Regions from separate parts of the Homo sapiens genome. Here region 2 is linked to region 1. The links come from fine-mapping of genetic effects on gene expression. A gene starts in region 1. The other region holds a variant in brackets. All regions are shown on one strand. Distances are from middle to middle. Region 1 holds the start of ALS2CL (ALS2 C-terminal like). Region 2 has its middle 32 kb from the start of ALS2CL.

Evidence for each region.
Region 2: its variant is fine-mapped to the expression of ALS2CL in whole blood (TOPMed, PIP above 0.99).

The regions. Positions count from the first base shown.
Region 1 is chr3:46,688,656-46,696,978 of GRCh38, forward strand. ALS2CL (ALS2 C-terminal like) reads right to left here and starts at 5,024. Exons shown (of 26, transcript NM_147129.5): 1 at 4,988-5,024; 2 at 683-810. The coding sequence starts at 785. It also overlaps a transcript of TMIE not described here. RefSeq lists enhancers at 3,588-4,379, 5,961-6,750, 7,840-8,323 and silencers at 4,824-5,118, 4,849-5,098, 5,249-5,328.
Region 2 is chr3:46,657,229-46,665,551 of GRCh38, forward strand. No RefSeq gene overlaps it. Among named protein-coding and RNA genes, the nearest start is that of ALS2CL, 32 kb to the right of the region's middle. RefSeq lists enhancers at 3,567-4,162, 5,143-5,788. The variant G/A (reference allele first, on the strand shown) is at 4,034.

The sequences.
Region 1 (8,323 bases):
GGTCACACAGTCCTCTGCCATTTCACAGATGCACAGAGGCACCTGTCCAAGGCCTCACAGGTGAGAATTAAACTGGAAGTAAAACCTAGGCATCCTGTTCCAGTCAGTCTTGTTCCCCTCCCGGCACCATCAGGTGCCCTAGGTGGGAGCAAGATGAAAATTCAAGCAAAGGGCAGTTTCCAGTTTTTTACCCTGGGAAAGGAGGAATTCCATCTCTTTGTACAGCCTGGTCTGGGCTACAGGTAGGTTCATGGCCTGGCCCCTCAGCGTTCCTTTAAAAAAGGAGCAGTCAGACTTGGCGCAGTGGCTCATGCCTATAATCCCAGCAATTTGAGAGGCTGAGGCGGGCAGATCATTTGAGGTCAAGACTTTGAGACCAGCCTGGCCAACATGGTAAAACCCGTCTCCACTAAAAATATGAAAATTAGCCAGGCGTGGTGGCAGGCACCTGTAATCCCAGCTACTCAGAAGGCTGAGGCACAAGAATCGCTTGAACCTGGGAGGCAGAGGTTGCAGTGAGCCAAGATCGCACCACCTGCATCAGAAGATGCTGATACCAGGTGTCACCACTCCTATTTGAGGTTGAGAAAGCTGTGGCTCAGCAAGTCCAACAAGGTAGGTCTCCTGTCCCTGGGATCATTCCTCGGTGCCCTTCCCTCCCCACTAGAAAGCCTAGACTCACCGGCTGGGAGCAGGGGCTGGAGGACAAGGCTGTTGACATGGGCGAGGGTGGCTGAGAAGACCTCCTCCAGCCGCAGCAGAGCTGCCTCCTCAGGGTTGCACATGGCCAGGTGCCGGACTCAGGGCCTCCTAGGTAGGGCACAGGTTACAGCTAGATAGCACAGACAGGAGCAAGGCCAGTGCCCATCCTCTCAGGCAGGGTGCCCAGAAGCAAGGTCCATGACCACCCACATCAGAACTGAGCAGTGAGCCCAGATCGCCTCAAAGGGGAGTTCCTGGACTGGCCACTGACCTCTGCCCTGCTCCCTGCCTAGGCCCAGCTGAGGGGTCCCTGAAGGAGAGAGAGAGCTCAGAGCTGCCAAGGGAAGCAACCCTTTCTTCCCCAAAGGGTAGATGTTCTTTAAGCCCAGTTTGGCCTGCTCATTCCTCTGCTCAAATATCCACCATGGATCCCAAGTGCCCAGGATAGTATTAGTAGTGCCCTGGTCTTAGCCTCCTTTCCATCAAGTCTCCCTTCAGGGATTCTGCAGTCTCTATAAACAGGGTCATACTGTCAGAGGATCCCAGCCCTGTCCTCTAGCCCATGGTTCGGGACTCCCTGTCACCCAACCAGGCTGTGTAAGCAAGGAGAGTTTTGGAGGTATGGGGGAGTCCGGAGGCCTCCTGCTAGAGCCACGAATGATGGGCAAGAAATGAAAAGGAAGACAGGACCCAGCAGGCAAGTGGAGGAACCCTGAGAGTAAAGGCTCATGGGTGTGAGGGCCCAGCCTCTGAGGGCAGCCCACCAAGCAGCACCCCAAAGGACCACAGCTTCACTGTGCCTCAGTCGGCCGTGGACAGCCATGGAGGACTTTAGAGCAAGGTAATGATGGGATCCAAAGTCACATTTGGGGAAATAAATGTATGACAGTTGTAGAGGAGATAGTGCCAGGCAGTGAGAGAGAGTTCAATGTGGATGGGAGCCTGGACCCTCCATGGTCCCCTAACCAGACAGAGGGATCACTGATCACAACCATCCACCCTGAAGGGGTGCCTGCTGGATGGGTGGGGGCCCTTGGGGTGGGCAGGTGGGCTTGAGCCTTGAGATTTCCTGCCCTGGAGTGAGGGACCTTCCAATCAGGCAGGAATCACCTGGGAATGCAGTGTCCTGCCTAAAGGGAGGGGTGAAGAGAGGCCTGGGCTCAAACCTACCCCCACAGCCAGGCTACAGGCTCTACTCCAACAAAGCCCTCCCCTACCAGACCCTGGTACCCTCACTTGGCAATGTTCATCTGCCCAAATGACCTGATCAGGTATCTGGGGCGGAGAGTTAGAGGGTCTTTTAGCCCAAGACCCGCAGACTGTCTCTCTCCTTGTCTCTGACACGCTGAGGCTTTGGAGTTAGCCAACCTGTGTGGGGCAGGGGACAAAATCAGGGCAGCCAACGATGGGCAGGTGACACAGGCAGACCCAAAAGGGTGAGTGGGAAGGGGTCTCAGCCCTCCCCTCTCCACCCTGCCCCGAGAGTGCCATGCGGGCATCCCAGGCCCCTGGCAGAGCCTACAACTCCCAGGGAATTGGCTCTGGAATGGAGTGGGGCGGGTCCCTCAGAGCTCTGGCCAAAGGCCCAGGCCAGGCATTCCTGCCCCACCTTTCCTGCTACTGCTGCTTCGAGAGGGTGAGGCTGCAGAGAGAGAGGCAGGAAGGGGAAGCCACCAGACACCCAGCTGCAGCTTCTGTGCTGCAGCTTCTTCTCCCTCTGTGGGCCCCTGAGGCAGACCCAGGCCCCCAGGACACAGGGGGCTCCAGGTCAGCTCAGGCAGACAAGGAAAGCCCAGCCAAGGGAATAGGGGTGCAGCCAGGCCCACCTAACTCTCACCCGTATCTCCCGAAACTGCTGGAATGGAAAGGCGCTTTGGGGGTGACCTTTTCACTCTCAGCTGGCAGTCAGCTGGGGTCTAAGCTAAGAGGTGAGGATATCCAAGCCTGGTTGGGAAGGTAGAAGAAAGGGTGAGGCTAGGATAGGAGATGCAGACTAGGAACCAGATCAGTGCACGTTGAAAAGATACTGCAGTAAATAACTCGCTGCTAGGAAGACTTGAACACCAACATCCCTACACTCTCCGGGGGGCCAGCACCATGACCCCAGCCGACACCATACCCTGGCAAGGAGCTCTCTGACCCTAGAGATAGCCTCTCCTCCTCAGGCTTCCTGTCCCTCGTCCCCACTGCCCAGTCTCAGCTGCTCCCCCAGGAGCAGCCCTCACCTGGCTGCTCAGCCCTGGACATGCTTCAACTTATCCACAGCCTTACTCCTCTCTGTACCTCAGCCACCCCTCTACGAAATGGGGGTTCAACCAGATCACAGCATTTTTTTCTTTTTATTTGTTTGTATTTCTTTCTATTCTTTTTTTTTTTTTTTTTTAGAGATGGGATCTCACTATGTTGACGAGGCTGGTCTCAAACTCCTAGCCTCAAGTGATCAACCCATCTTGGCCTCCCAAAGTGCTGGGATTACAGGCGTGAGCCACTGCGCCCAGCCAAAGAGGATCACAGCTTTTCAAACTACTTAAGTCTCCCCTCAAAAGGACAAACAGGTGGAAGGGGGCTTCTCTGGGTGTGGGGATCTGGTCCTTAGACTCCCCACCCCACAAAGCAGCCTATGACTCCGGGGGTGAGTCCTCCAGACTCAAGTTGGCAACTGTTAATCTGGGAGTCTTCCACATCTGTGGCCCCAAAGGGATCTATAACCCTGGGAAACTGAGTCACACCACCCAGAGGAACGGGCAGAAGTTAAGCATGGCTGGTGAGGCAGTGGGTTGGGGGAAGGCCGCAGTGGAAGCTGGGATTCTGGTTAGGTGACCCTGAGGGACCCAGCTCCCAGGCTAGGGAGTCTGGGGCTTCATCCTGGAAGTGATGAGGAGAGTGTAAGTGCAGGGGTGAGGCAGCGTGAATGTGCATGAGTGTGCACGTTTGCAGGGCAGGAGGAGGAGGTGCTGAACCTTAATATGAGGAGGATCCTGCAGGAGTACCCCCCTCCCCAACCCCTGTCCCATCCCTAACCTTCCCCCTTCCAGTCAAGGGCATAGCTTCCTCACCCTCTCCCTCCCTCCAGTTCAAAGGTTCCTTAGTGACAGGCTGTGCCTAATGTACAGATGGGGAAACTGAGGCCCAGGAACAATGGGAGGGTCCAGAGACCCTTGTGTAGAACTTGTGCAGGGCTCAGACCCAGACTTCTGGCTCCAGCCCACCAGGTTCACCTAGCTAGATGGCTCAGAGAGGGTGGGCAACTCACCTGAGGCACAGAGCAAGATCCTGACGGGCCCTGCCTCACAGCTGTCCTCAGGCAGCCCTGATGCTCACCACGGGGTGCGGTGGGGTGGGGCAGGGTGAGGACAGAACTGGCCAGTCACGGCGTGCCCAGGTGAGTCAGCGGCTGCCCCTGTGGCGCTCTAACCAGTAGCCAGACCTGGTCTCTCCTCTGCATTCCTGGCCTCTGTCCACGCTAGGTCCCTCCCGGGCAGGGTCACTGGGGCCTTCCCTGTCCTCTCCCAGGCCTGGCTCCTTAGGCCCCTGACACACCTTGTCGTGACACTCACTCACTCTGGTATTTCCTGGTCTGAACAGGCAGGGAAGTTCTGCCTGCTGTGGAGGCTTTTTCATGGGCTGCCGTGGCAGCCCCTTCGTTGTCTGGTGCCCAGTGGGGGAGAGTAGAGACACGCACTGCCCCAGGGAGGGGGCGCTGAACTGTCACACCTGATCCCTCAGTCTCATGCTCGCCTCTCCCCGCTGCACCCTTCCTCGGCCCCACCATGGCTACAAGCCTCTTGTCCTAGACAAGCACCCCTCCCTGCTGTCGCATATGTCCCAGCTTCCCTTCCTCTCCCTGCCCAGGCACACACTCAGTCGCTGGAGTTTCCCAGACCCGAGCTCCTGTTCCGGCCGCCAGGCATTTGCCATGCCGCTCCCATGCGAAAAGGCCACCTCCTGGAATCCCGGGTCGGGCCCTTCCGCCCTAACCAGCCGGCGTCACCTCCTCCTGGCAGTCTCTCCTGCTGGCTGGGGCCCCGTGGCCCTGCCACCACGGCTCAGGTCAGGCCCGGGGCGCTGCCCCGAACCCAAGCAGGCTAGCAGCCAGGCAGGGAGGACGACGCTGTGAGCGGGGTATCTTACGAGGGACTCGGACGGCCGGGGGATGACTGCCGCCGGGACCAAGGAGCTGGGCGGGGACCGCAGCAGCCGAGGAGGCGGGAGCCCCCACCTGGACGAGCTAAGCGTGGAGCGCAGACACCCGTCCGCAGACGCGCGCCCTTCGTCGCGCCCTTACCTGAGCGCTGTGGTTGCCCCGCGCCGGGACTGCCTGTGCGGCTCCTCGCTCGCACCCCCACCCTGCCCCCTGCCAGTCCCGCCCCCTGCCAGCCCCGCCCCCTTCGCCCAGCCCCGCCCCGCCCCGCCTCCGGGTGTTGCTCTGGAGTTGCGGGGGCCACGGGCGGGCCACCGAGGAGCTGGCGCGCGGTATTGATCCGTCCCGCCGCCCCAAGCCTCTCCTGAGGCCTCCCTCTGGCGTCCCCCGGGATCCGGAGGCCCCTGGGACCCGGCGCGGGGAGGAAAAGTGGGAGTCTTGACCCCTCCGCCCCCTACGCACCCACGCGCACACTCAGGCTCGCCTCTCGCGCCCCGCTTCCCCTGCAAGGCTCCGAGGCCGCCGTGCCACCACCTCGCCCCGCCAGTCAGTCGCTCTGCGAGCCTGTGGTGCAGCCCCGTGACCTCCCGGGTCTGCCCTGAGTCACAGAAGCCAGCACACGCGGAGCGCTGTGTGGGTTCGTGGAACTTGGAGCCTGTAGAGGGGTATACTGAGGCGCCCTGCGGCCCCCTGGGCTGGGTGTCCACGGCCGGCCGCCCCTCCTGTGCGACCTTGGGGAAGTCCCCTTTCCTCCCCACTCCTGAGTCTCAACAGGCCTAGTAGAGCATGAAGCCGGCCGCGTGTGCTTTGTGCGAAGGCCTGAGACCTTGGAAAGGGTGGCTGAAGACTTATCTGGGACAGACCCCCCGGGAGCGGGAGGGAACTTAGTTCAAACCTGTAACAAAGAAGCCCCCCGTCAGCAGCCTGATTCCCCCTCTGGCCACCAGGTTAGTCACCCATTGCTCTCAGTGGCACTCAGGTTCCAGTGAGGGGGAGGCTCAGGGTCCAAGGCGGCCGTGGAAGAGCAGAAAGGGTGGCCCACCAGCCCCCTACTCAGCCCCCTACTGAGGAGGTGGGAGGCATCCCCCAACCTGCCAGGCTGAAGAGACCCCCAGTGGAGGTAAGTAGGGGCCTGGGGCCTGCCAAGCTCATCCCCTGGCTCCCTTGGGTTGTTGCGAGGTGGGAGTTTACTGTCTGCCAAGCTGCACATCACCCCTTGGAGGGTTTCCAGCCTGGGACCCTTGTCTGAGTGACTGCAGGTCCCAGTGACCTCACCCTTTTGCCCCACATTGCTCTCCTCCTGGGTCCCAATCCTGCAGAGCCGCCCCTTCCTGCTTCTCCATCCCTCCCCACATTGCCAAAGCCCGCCCTAGCTCTGGCCTCCCCTTTTCCAGCCTTGTTTTCTTGCCCCCTTCTGCACCCCCTGCTGCCTGAGGGGCTCCACTCCCAAAGGCCTTGCTCCTCTGGTCCCTGCCTGCTAGAGGTGTTGCTGTGTTGGTGGGTGGGGGCTACCTCAAGGAGGCTTCTGGTGAGGTGTCCCTCTGGCCCTCTGGGAAAGCCTCCCCTCCCCATGCCCTCCACCCCCAGGCTCCGGACCTTGGCCCCCACTCCCCTTCACAGCCCTGTTGGCCTGCGGGACTGTCTGCTGGGGCACTTGGCTCCCTGAGTCTACAGCACAGCCTGGCAGAGCCACCGCCCCAGCAGGTGGAATGAACTGAGGCTTCAGGTTCTAAACAGGCCTCCAAGGTCTTCCCTGTGGGGATCCTTTGTGCCTGTGGGGCAGTGGGAGGTAGCGGTACATTCTGGAAGAGCTGGTATGGGGCCTTGTGCTGCTTTCCTCTTGCTGTGTGATCACAGGCAGTGTGTGGCCTCTCTGTAACGTAGTGCCCCTGCTGGTGAAATATCTTACCTGCGCCTCCTTCTCGGGGTTATGTGGGACTCTGAGAGGAGGGGTATGGTGGGTTCAAGGGGCTCCTTCAGGGATGAGCACGGTTTAGAGGATCTATGGGTCCCCTAGAGCATGGGTGTGGGCCACCAGGCATCCCTGGGGCTTAGGAGGGAGGCAAGGGCTGGAGAGTGGCCATGGCCTCAGGAGGAGCATATGGCCTCACCACTTGTGACGAACAGGGACAGGTGGGGCAAGGCCCCGAGCAGGACAGATCTGATCTTATGCTAGGTGTCTCTGGGCCTCACTTTCATCATCTGCACGTGCAGCTGAGGGAAGGCAGTGCTGCCTGGGCTCGAGCAGGAAGGGAAGGGCTCCCACGGCTTCCTCCCTAGAGCACAGACTTCCTGTTCAGCCACATCTAGGGGAATAGAAAGGCTGACTGAGCTCTGGGCAGCAGACCAGTCCTTCCCCCATTCCCTGGGTGACCTCATGGGCATTGCAAGCCCAGTTTTCCTATCTGCTAAATGGGGCAAGACCTGCCCAGCCTCTCTTACAGCTCATTCTTGGCTTGGGGCCAGGTAAGGCCTCTGGTAGTGCCCAAAGGACAGCCTCTGCTGAGTCCACCTGCCTTCAGTCCCCTGCAGCACAGCCAAGGGCCCCTAGCCAATCCCACCACAGATGTGTATACCCACCCACACCACTCCCACACCCGCTGCACACAGATACAATTCCACAGTCAGGGAATGGGTGGGTCCCTGTGCCACATGGACCCATCTACCATTGAACCCACTGGTAAGGACTCCAAGTTGCACAACTCTAGTGGCAGCCCTGGGTATGCGTGTGCAGATCATGTGCCCATCCACAGGGACACAGACCTGCACACTACTCCAGGGAACACACACGTATGTGAATGGCACCTGTGATTCTGGAGCCATTGAGACTCATACCCAGCCACACACAAAGCTGCATGCAGAATGCACATGCACTCCCATGTGCACCAGTGCCTTAGTACACAAAGCACATGCTCAAGCACACGCAGGTCTGACACAGGCCTGGCCCAGCCCCACAGCTATTCTGAGCTGAGCCTGGGGCTGATGAGGTCAGGGACAGCCAACTCCCAGCAGGCCCCAGCTGCTGTGGCACAGGCCTAGGCTGCCCAGCTCCCACCCCCACCCTAGGCTGAGTCCCTGGATCCTAGCCTAGCTTTGTGACTGGGGGTCCTCATTTCCTACCCCCAGCTCCCCCAGAGCTAAACTTTAAGCCCTGGGATTTCAGGCTCCAGGAGAGAACATTCCACAGGGTCCTCTGGCCACTACCCCCTGCCTTGCTCACAGCTTCCAGTTCAGAGGCCCTGGAGGCTGGACTGGGTCCCTACAGGAAACTCACAGGAGCTAAAATTAGTACAGGAGGGAGAAGCAGGGATCTGCAGACCAGCATTCACAGCACCATGTATGGAGGGGACACTGTCTTCCAGGGAGCAAGGGTGGGGGACTTGGAGTCCAGAGGTCCCCAACCCCAGATATGATGGGCCCAACTGATTTTGGGGTGCAGGGGGATGTGGAGGCCTCCTAAGAAGCAGAAACAGTACTGGA
Region 2 (8,323 bases), 31 kb before region 1:
AGTACTGGTCCATGGCCTGTTAGGAGCCAGGCCATAGAGCAGAAGGTGAGCAGTGGGTGAGTAAGCAAAGCTTCGCCTGTATTTACAGCCACGCCCCATCACCGGCATTACCACCTGAGCACCTCCTCCTGTCTGATCAGCAGCATTAGATTCTCATAGGAGTGCAAACCCCATTGTGAACTGCGCATGCGAGGGATCTAGGTTGCAGGTTCCTTACCATAACCTAATGCTTGATGATCTGTCACTGTCTCCCATCACCCTTTGATAGGACCATCTCTAGTTGCAGGAAAACAAGCTCAGGGCTCCTACTGACTCTGCATTCTGGTGAGTTGTATAATCATTTCTTTACATATTACAATGTAATAATAATAGAAATAAAGTGCACAATAAACGTAATGCGCTTGAATCATCCCGAAATCACCTCCCCACCCCGCCCCTAGTCTGTGGAAAAATTGTCTTCCACAAAACTGGTCTCCGGTGCCAAAAAGGTTGGGGGCCACTGTTTTAGAAGACTCATATGGCAGAATTATAGATTACAAGGTTCAATAAATGCCAGGATTGTGGCTGGAAAGGAGGGTAGAAGTCAATTCCAGAAGGTGCCTTTCCTGTTGTGCAGTTGACTCAGAACTGGGATGCTAGAAAGTTGCCCTGTGATTTGTGGAGGGAATCCACACTAACCACAGGAAATCACCCATGACATTTGCAAGACAGAAGGAAGGAGAAACTGAACTAAGGGGTGGTAGCAGAACTGGACAGGAGGTAGTGCAGAGAAGAATTATTTACATGTTGAACCAATGGAGTTAAGAACTAAATGCTGGACCTCTTTTTTTTTTTTTTTTGGTGGAGATGGGATCTCACTATGTTGCCCCAGCTAGAGTGCAGTGGTGCAAACAAGGCTCACTGCAGCCTCAACCTCTTGGGCTCAAGTAATCCTCCTGCCTCAGCCTCCTGAGTAGCTGGGACTACAGGCACATGCCACCATGCCCAGCTAATTTTTAAAATGTTTATACAGATGAGGTCTCACTATGTTGCCGAGGCTAGTCTCAAACTCCTGAGCTCAAGTGATCCTCCCACCTTGGCCTCCCTAACTGCTGGGAACCACTGCACCCAGCCTACTGGGCATTTTTTAATGCCCAGCCTTAGCAAGGCATCTGCCTCACAGCAGACACTCAATGACTAGCACCTGGTGAATTTAGTCCAGTCGCGCCTTGATCTCCACCCAGCAGGTTATCAGTATTTGACTATACTAAACATTTCATTTAAAGAATGCTTTGAGCCCGGGCATGGTGGCTCATGCCTGTAACCCCAGCACTTTGGGAGGCCGAGGCGGGCAGATCACCTGAGGTCAGGGGTTTGAGACCAGGCTGGCCAACATAGTGAAATCCCGTCTCTACCAAAAATACAAAAATTAGCTGGGCATGATGGCGCACACCTGTAATCCCAGCTACATGGGAGGCTGAGGCAGGAGAATCACTTAAACCTGGGAGGCAGAGATTGCAGTGAGCTGAGATTGCGCCACTGCACTCCAGCTTGGGTGACTGAGACTCTGTCTCAAAAAAAAAAAAATGCTCTGCATGCCCGCCTGTAACCAAAAATAAATATTAATTGCTGAGTTACTTTTACTGTGGAAAAACTACTCATCTGCTTGACATTGCTCTTTCACCAAGGGGCATTCTGTTGTTTCACCTCTGCAATTTAAAATTTCTAGTGAAATTAAATTCTGTTACTTGTTGTGGCTGTGTACCATCTTAAACTATCATTAATCACAAAGACAGATAATACCAAGGAATGATTTCAATGCCGCACCTGCAAGTGGCGGAGAACTGCAAGCTGGAATCAGCCTCTGCCGAGGTGCAGGCCCCAAGAGACAGCAGCATCTGTGTAGAAACCAAACACATGCATTTTTTTCCTCTGTGTTTATAGAATTGTCTTCCGTTTACGGTCATTGATGCTGGATTTCCACGTACACAGGGATATGAAGTTTCCCATTTTAACAGATTCCCATTTTTAAGTAGAAGTATAGAAAAACTCTAAAAGTTAAATGATGAATAGTAGGTTTGGCAAGGACTGTTCCGTTTACCTAGTGCTGCACTAAAAAGCCATCCCAAAACAATGGCTTGAAACAATAGCCGAGGTTTATTTTGCTCAGGAATCTGGGGCTGACTGGGCTGCTAGGCAGCTGTTGCCTGGGGGCATCTCTAAGGTTCCAGTCCATGGAGGCTGCAGTCACACGCGAGTGTCCTCACTCACGCGCCCAGTGTCTGGGCTGGTAAGACTCCAGGCACTGGATGCTGGATAGGCTGGGCCTATTGGGTCTCTCTCTCTGAGGCGTCCCCACACAGCAGCTCAGGGCTGCCAGACTCCCAGCATGATGGTTAAAGGCTCCCAGAACAAGGATCCCAGGAGAACTGGCAGGACCTATGTGGCTTTCTATAAGCAGCCTCAGAAGGCACTCGGCTCTCTCCTGCTGTAATCATTAAGGGCTGTGGTTTAAGGTGAGGTTCGTGGCCTCTGTGTCTTGATGGGGAGAGTGTGGAAGAATTGGTGGATATGTTTGAAAGCCACCACCAGGGCAGAAAAAAAAATACTGAGAGGCTGAACATTAGGGGATATGGGGAAATGCCCCTGCAGGTTTTGAAAGTCTTTCTCACTTGGGGTTTGCCTGACCTCCCTGCAACTCATTTCCCAGCTCTCTGCATTCTGGAAAGTCATGCCCTTCTACCTCTGGGCCTTTGACTCTGCCTTCCCCCCTGCCAGGCAAGCCATTCCTCCCTCTGGCAAATTCATTCTTCAAGATCCAGTTTCATGGTGCTGTCTGCTAAGACAGGGCCCCCACCTCTGCCCTCTTCCTGCTGTGACCACACAGACTAGGCATGTTTTGCAGACTCTTTCTCCAGAAGGACCGGGCACACAGGAAACCAATGACCACTCACTTCCCCAAGGTCATCTTTCCTCAGAGGCACTGGCAAGACTCACTGTGTAAGCACAGGTTGATTTCAGCTCACCTGCTGTCATCCGTGCTTGTCCCTGGGGATGCCTTGGCCAAACCTGAAAGAAATGCAGGAACCAGTGATGAATAGTCCTGTGCTAGTGCCTGAGACAGGCCGGGGGCCTCCTGCAGCCACTTGTCCGCACTGCTCATGTACAGATGCGTGGGTGCACCTGCTTGCTCGTATGTCCGCCTGGTTTGGCTGCATGACAGCAAGGTATAAAAGATCCTTTCTGGTTTGAAACAGTGGTTCCCTGAGGTCAAGGTATCTCCCATGTGCCTGCTGGCCCCTTTCTCTCTCCTCCAGTGCTCTCTGCCGCCCCTTAAAAGGGTCCACCACATTTCCCACGAGGATCAAAGCAATTGTGTGGGAGAGAAGAGCTTGCCTCTGAAGGCAGGCCTTGGAGATGGCCTCTTATTGATGGTCCTCACCCCTTCCTCATGGTCCTGTGCTAACCAGGCCACACAGACCGAGTCCTCACTGCACCAGGCACCGCTGCCCCAGCTCCAGGCTGCCACCCTCTGGGCTCCAGCAGCTGGGGGTGCAGAGAGCACCTGGCTCCTCAGGACACAGAGGAAGCACCTCAATGCTCCCCTGGGCAGCTCAGCCATGCAGGTCCTTTCAAGCTATCAGAGCAGGGAAAGATGTCACTGTCCCCAGAGGAGACAGTGGGCAGGGTGCATCTGTCCCAGCCATCAGCAACCTCCACCCAAAGGCACCCCATGCACTCCAGTTAGCTCTGTCTTCACATGCCCTGGCATGAGCTGCAGCACTGCTCTGAGCTCCGGGAGCCAAGGAAGACAGCCAAATCCCCTGGGGCACTAGGTCACATGGCCCTGCAGCTCGGTCCCCGTTGCCCAAGCTCTGACTTCCCACTCCTGTTCCCTGCCCTCCAGGAAAAGCCACATGTTATACTCACCCTCACCTGCACCTCCCTTCACCCCTGGGTCTGGAATTGCTGGTGGGTTCAGGGATGAAGGATTTCCCACTGAGCAGACCTTGGGTGTGGACTTGAAGCTTCAAACCCTCCTTGCTCACTTCTC[G/A]GCTTAGTGCTGGGGCAAACAACCTGAAAACCGATCTGAGTCTCCAGGAGTGCTGCCCTCCCCCACTCCACCCCCAACACAGAGGGGCCCAGTGGGTCTTATTTCCATTGGAAATTTCACTGCTGGGTGGTTTAGAGTCCTTGTCATTCTCTTCCCTGTCCTAGCTCATGGATGTGTGTTACTGTTTCAGTTCGGAGCAGGGTCCTTAAAGGGGCAGGGTCATGGCTCCCCAGCCTCAGGGGTGTCATCAATAATGTTCTGGGCCAGGTGTGGTAGCTCATGCCTGTAATCCCAGCACTTTGGGAGGCTGAGGTGGGTGGATCACTTGAGGTCAGGAGTTCAGGACAAGCCTGGTCAACATGGTGAAACACTGTCTTTACTAAAAATACAAAAATTATCCAGGTGGTGCATGCCTGTAATCCCAGCTACTTGGGAGGCTGAGACAGGAGAATCACTTGAACCTGGGAGGCAGAGGTTGCAGTGAGTAGAGATCATGCCATTGCACTTCAGCCTGGGCAGCAGAGTGAGACTCTGTGGCAAAAGAAAAAAAAACAGTGTTCTGAATTATTCAAGCCCTGTCCTGGAGTCAAACTGAACTCTTCCCTCTAACTCCCCAACTAGCGCCACACTGAGGAGCAACAGCTGCCTTGAATCCCCCGCTGTTCCATTCACTAAACTAGATTAGATGGGGAGGGGGAGGGCATAGAAGGTGCTGGGGAGCTGCAGCCTCATTGTTGTGATTCATTCACTTAATGGATCTTGTGCAGAGCACAGTTCAAGGCCCTGGGGATGAAGTAGTGACCAAGACAGAGGAGGCCTCTCCCTGCCCTCCCCAGGCACCCAGTCCAGCAAGGAGTGGGGGATTTAGCCAGGAGAGGGTGTCAGTGAGGACAAAACGTGCTCAATGACAGGATACAGGGAGAGGGCAGAGGCGGCAAACCGCGGGTCAGGGAAGCCTCTCGTGGGAAGCACTGTTTAGCCTGGAACCTGAAGGACAAGAATGAGACTGCTCCAGGGAGAGTGAGGGCCAGGAGGAGGACACCAGTGCAGGGCCATGAGGTGGGAGAGGCTCAGGGGGCTCCAGGAGCATCAAGACAGGTGGCAAGAGTGACGAGAGCACAGAGAGGAAAGGGGGTAGGAGTCATGAGGGGCTGGCAGAGGGATTCCAGGGCGACCCCAGGGACCGGGCCTGTGAGTCAAGAGAAAGAGGCTGGATTGATTCTAGGCACTGGGAAGCCATGGAGGGATGTCAGCAGGGTTGATTTCACGAAGCTGCCTCTGGCTGCAGTGTTGGCACCTGGCTGGGATGGGGGCGGGAGAGGCAGCAGGAAGACCAGGGAGGAGGCTGGGGCAGGAGGTGTCCAGCTGGGAGGGGACCAGGGCCTGGAGAAGGGTGTGCATGGGCACGGAGAGAAGCAGATGTGCCCAAGACCCATGTTGCCTTCGGGCTGACAGAGGTGCTGATGGAACAGAGGTGTGGACGAGGAGGGAGGAATCCCAGATCAGAGTGCTCAGCACTGAGGGGTGCACTCTCAATCAGGGCCTGACCAGGGATGAAGGGAAGCTCTGAAGATGGGTGAGGGAGGGTGTCAGATCTCCATTAGGAAACGGAGTGGAGAATGGTCTGTGACTCTGCACGACTCCCTGGGAATCTTGCGCGTATCCACGCAGGCCACATAAGCAAGGCTCAGCTGCGGTCCAACCTGTGTCTCGGCTGAATGCCCTACAATTCCTCCTGCAGCCAGGGGAGCTAAGACTTGGGAGAAGCCACTGAGAGGTCTTTCTCAGCTGCAGGCTACAAAATTGTTTGGCTGTAATATGGAGGCAGCTCCTAAATGGCTGAGTGACCCTCTGCTCACACTGTCATCCGATCCCTCCGGGTCAGAGTCAGACTGTGGGATGAGGGACAAGGGAGCTGACCTCCTGCCCATTTTGCTTCTGCTGTTCTTGTAAATAATAAACTGTCTAAATCCACGTGGGCTCATTGTCTCATCCCTGGCTGGATGCATGGAAGTGCGCCAAATCCACCAGCAGCTGCAGTCATGTAGCCACCCACGCTGTCGCTTGGAAATTGCTTCACAGTTTGATAAATTGGTCCCAAACGTGGGGCCAGTAAGGGTACAATGCCTTTCTGGAGAGAAGACAGAAGAGGCCCACGTGGCCGACCAAATGAAGAGATGTGGAAGACCCCAGGATCGCCCAGGCATGCTGTCACCCAGGGAGGGTGAGAGGAGGGGAACAGGGTACCCCTCTGTCCTACCTCCTGAGGAATGTTTGCAGGCTGAGTAGCAAGAGGAAGAATTGAAACCAGCCAACCAAATGCTGCCCCTCCTGATGTCCAGAGAGTTCTTGGGCTCAGGGAGATGTAAAAATGAAAACAAAAACAAAACCAGACAGGATGAAATAGAGGAGGAGGCTGGGTCGGGGGCCTGGAAGGAGAGAGCAGCTCTGCACATCAGCCGATGCTGTGACTCCTGACTGCAAGGTCTGCTCCCACAGGGGAAGGGCCACAGTTAGGACAGTGGCCGGTGGGACAAGCACACACCTGGGAGCCCACCAGGCTTCACCTGCCCAGCCACTTGATGGCAGTAAAGCAGCATAGAATAGAAGAGGGCAGGGGCCACAGCACTAAAGAGCTGTAGAGGAAGAGGTGCGTAAGGAAACCATCCAGCAGCTGTGCGGACTGCCCTCCCCAGCCAATTAGTCCTGAAGAGCCTTGAAAATTATGAGTGTGCGTGGCGGACAATTACTCAGCCTGGAGCCAGTTGCAGCAGGATGCTGGCAGTCAACAAAGGTGACCCCTGGTGTTCTGAGTACAGCAGTGACTTGACAGACAGGGCCCAGCACACCCCCTCGAGTGGTAATTACTGACTTGCAGCTGGGTGTAGGTAGACACTGAGGGTAGAGCTCCCCATGCATGGTTCCTCCCAGGCAGACCCTTATAGGGTGGGTCTGGAGGAAAGACACCAACACAGTGGACACTGCCCAGCAAATGTCTGTCATCAAATGACAGGGGGACAGCCAAGAAAGGAGGAAGCCAGGCATCAATGGAATCTCCCATCAGCCTGAAAAAGTGGCAATCACCCGCCAGGGGCAGCTACCCCAGACCTGGGGTCTGCACCAGCACCTCAGGCTCCTTGTGAACTTCACCACAGCGCAGTCCCTGAGGAGGCCTGGGCCTGATTCACAGACAGATCAGCCAAGCTACAGGACCCACAGAAAACACTGATGAAAGCTGCATATGAAGAAAGAAGTCTGGCCAGGGGCAGTGGTGCAGGCTATGGTTCTTGCCCTGGAAACAGCCCCCACCAAAGTTCACAGCCAGTGGGCTGACCATGTGGTCTGGCACTTGACAATGGAACAACTGGATGTCAAGTCCCAACCCTGGTTGGGACAAACATTAGGCTTCAGATTGCACAGGGCCCAGGGCCTCTGAAAACCCAGTGAAAAGGACCCCTTGGCAGTGAACGTCAGTGAAACCAATAAGCTGACCAATTCTGCATAGCCCAGGTAAGCATCAGAGCCACCTGGATACACCATCACACGAGGCCTGGCCATCTGTCCATAGCTCAGGACTGGGGCCCACGTCAAAGCCTAGTGAGGCCAGCACATGAGGCCAAGCAAGCCTGCAAGTGTACCAGCTCCACAGTCAAGGGACAAAGTGACTCCAGTGCACACAGCGACCTGTGCACTCCAGTACACTGACCTGGCCAGTCCTGGAAAACAGACTCCACGGACCCCTTCCCCTTCTGCCAGGAGCACCACTGGGTGCTGACGACCGTAGATGCAGCAATTCCCATCTGCGGGGAACGTGGGCCGTGCTGCTTGACAAGTCCTAAATGTACTGCTGCATATCTGAACTCCTGGAGCACATCCAGTCGGACAATGATGCCGCCCTCATAGCCAAGAGAACCAGCAATAGGCAGCTATCTGAGGGCTGCTGTGTGGGACATTTCATGTCGCCTACCACCCACAGACAGCAGGTGACTTAAAAGATGAACTAAAAAAAAAAAAACTGAAAAGATAAGTGGACTCTAATTGTGGCAATTCTCCAGGAAGGTACCATTCATTTAAATAAAATATTTAGTTATGAGGTAGGGAGGGGGAATAAGAAAAGACCCACACTGGCTGTGAGAGACCCTGCTGCATAATTCATCCTCCTCACTCTTCTCTGCCCACCTCCATCCCTGCATGGAGGAACCCGGGCTACTGACCCGTGGGCTGCAAGGTGGGGGTTGGTGTGGGAGATGCTAATCCGGTCACTCTTACCTCCTGGCTCTGCGTGCGAGC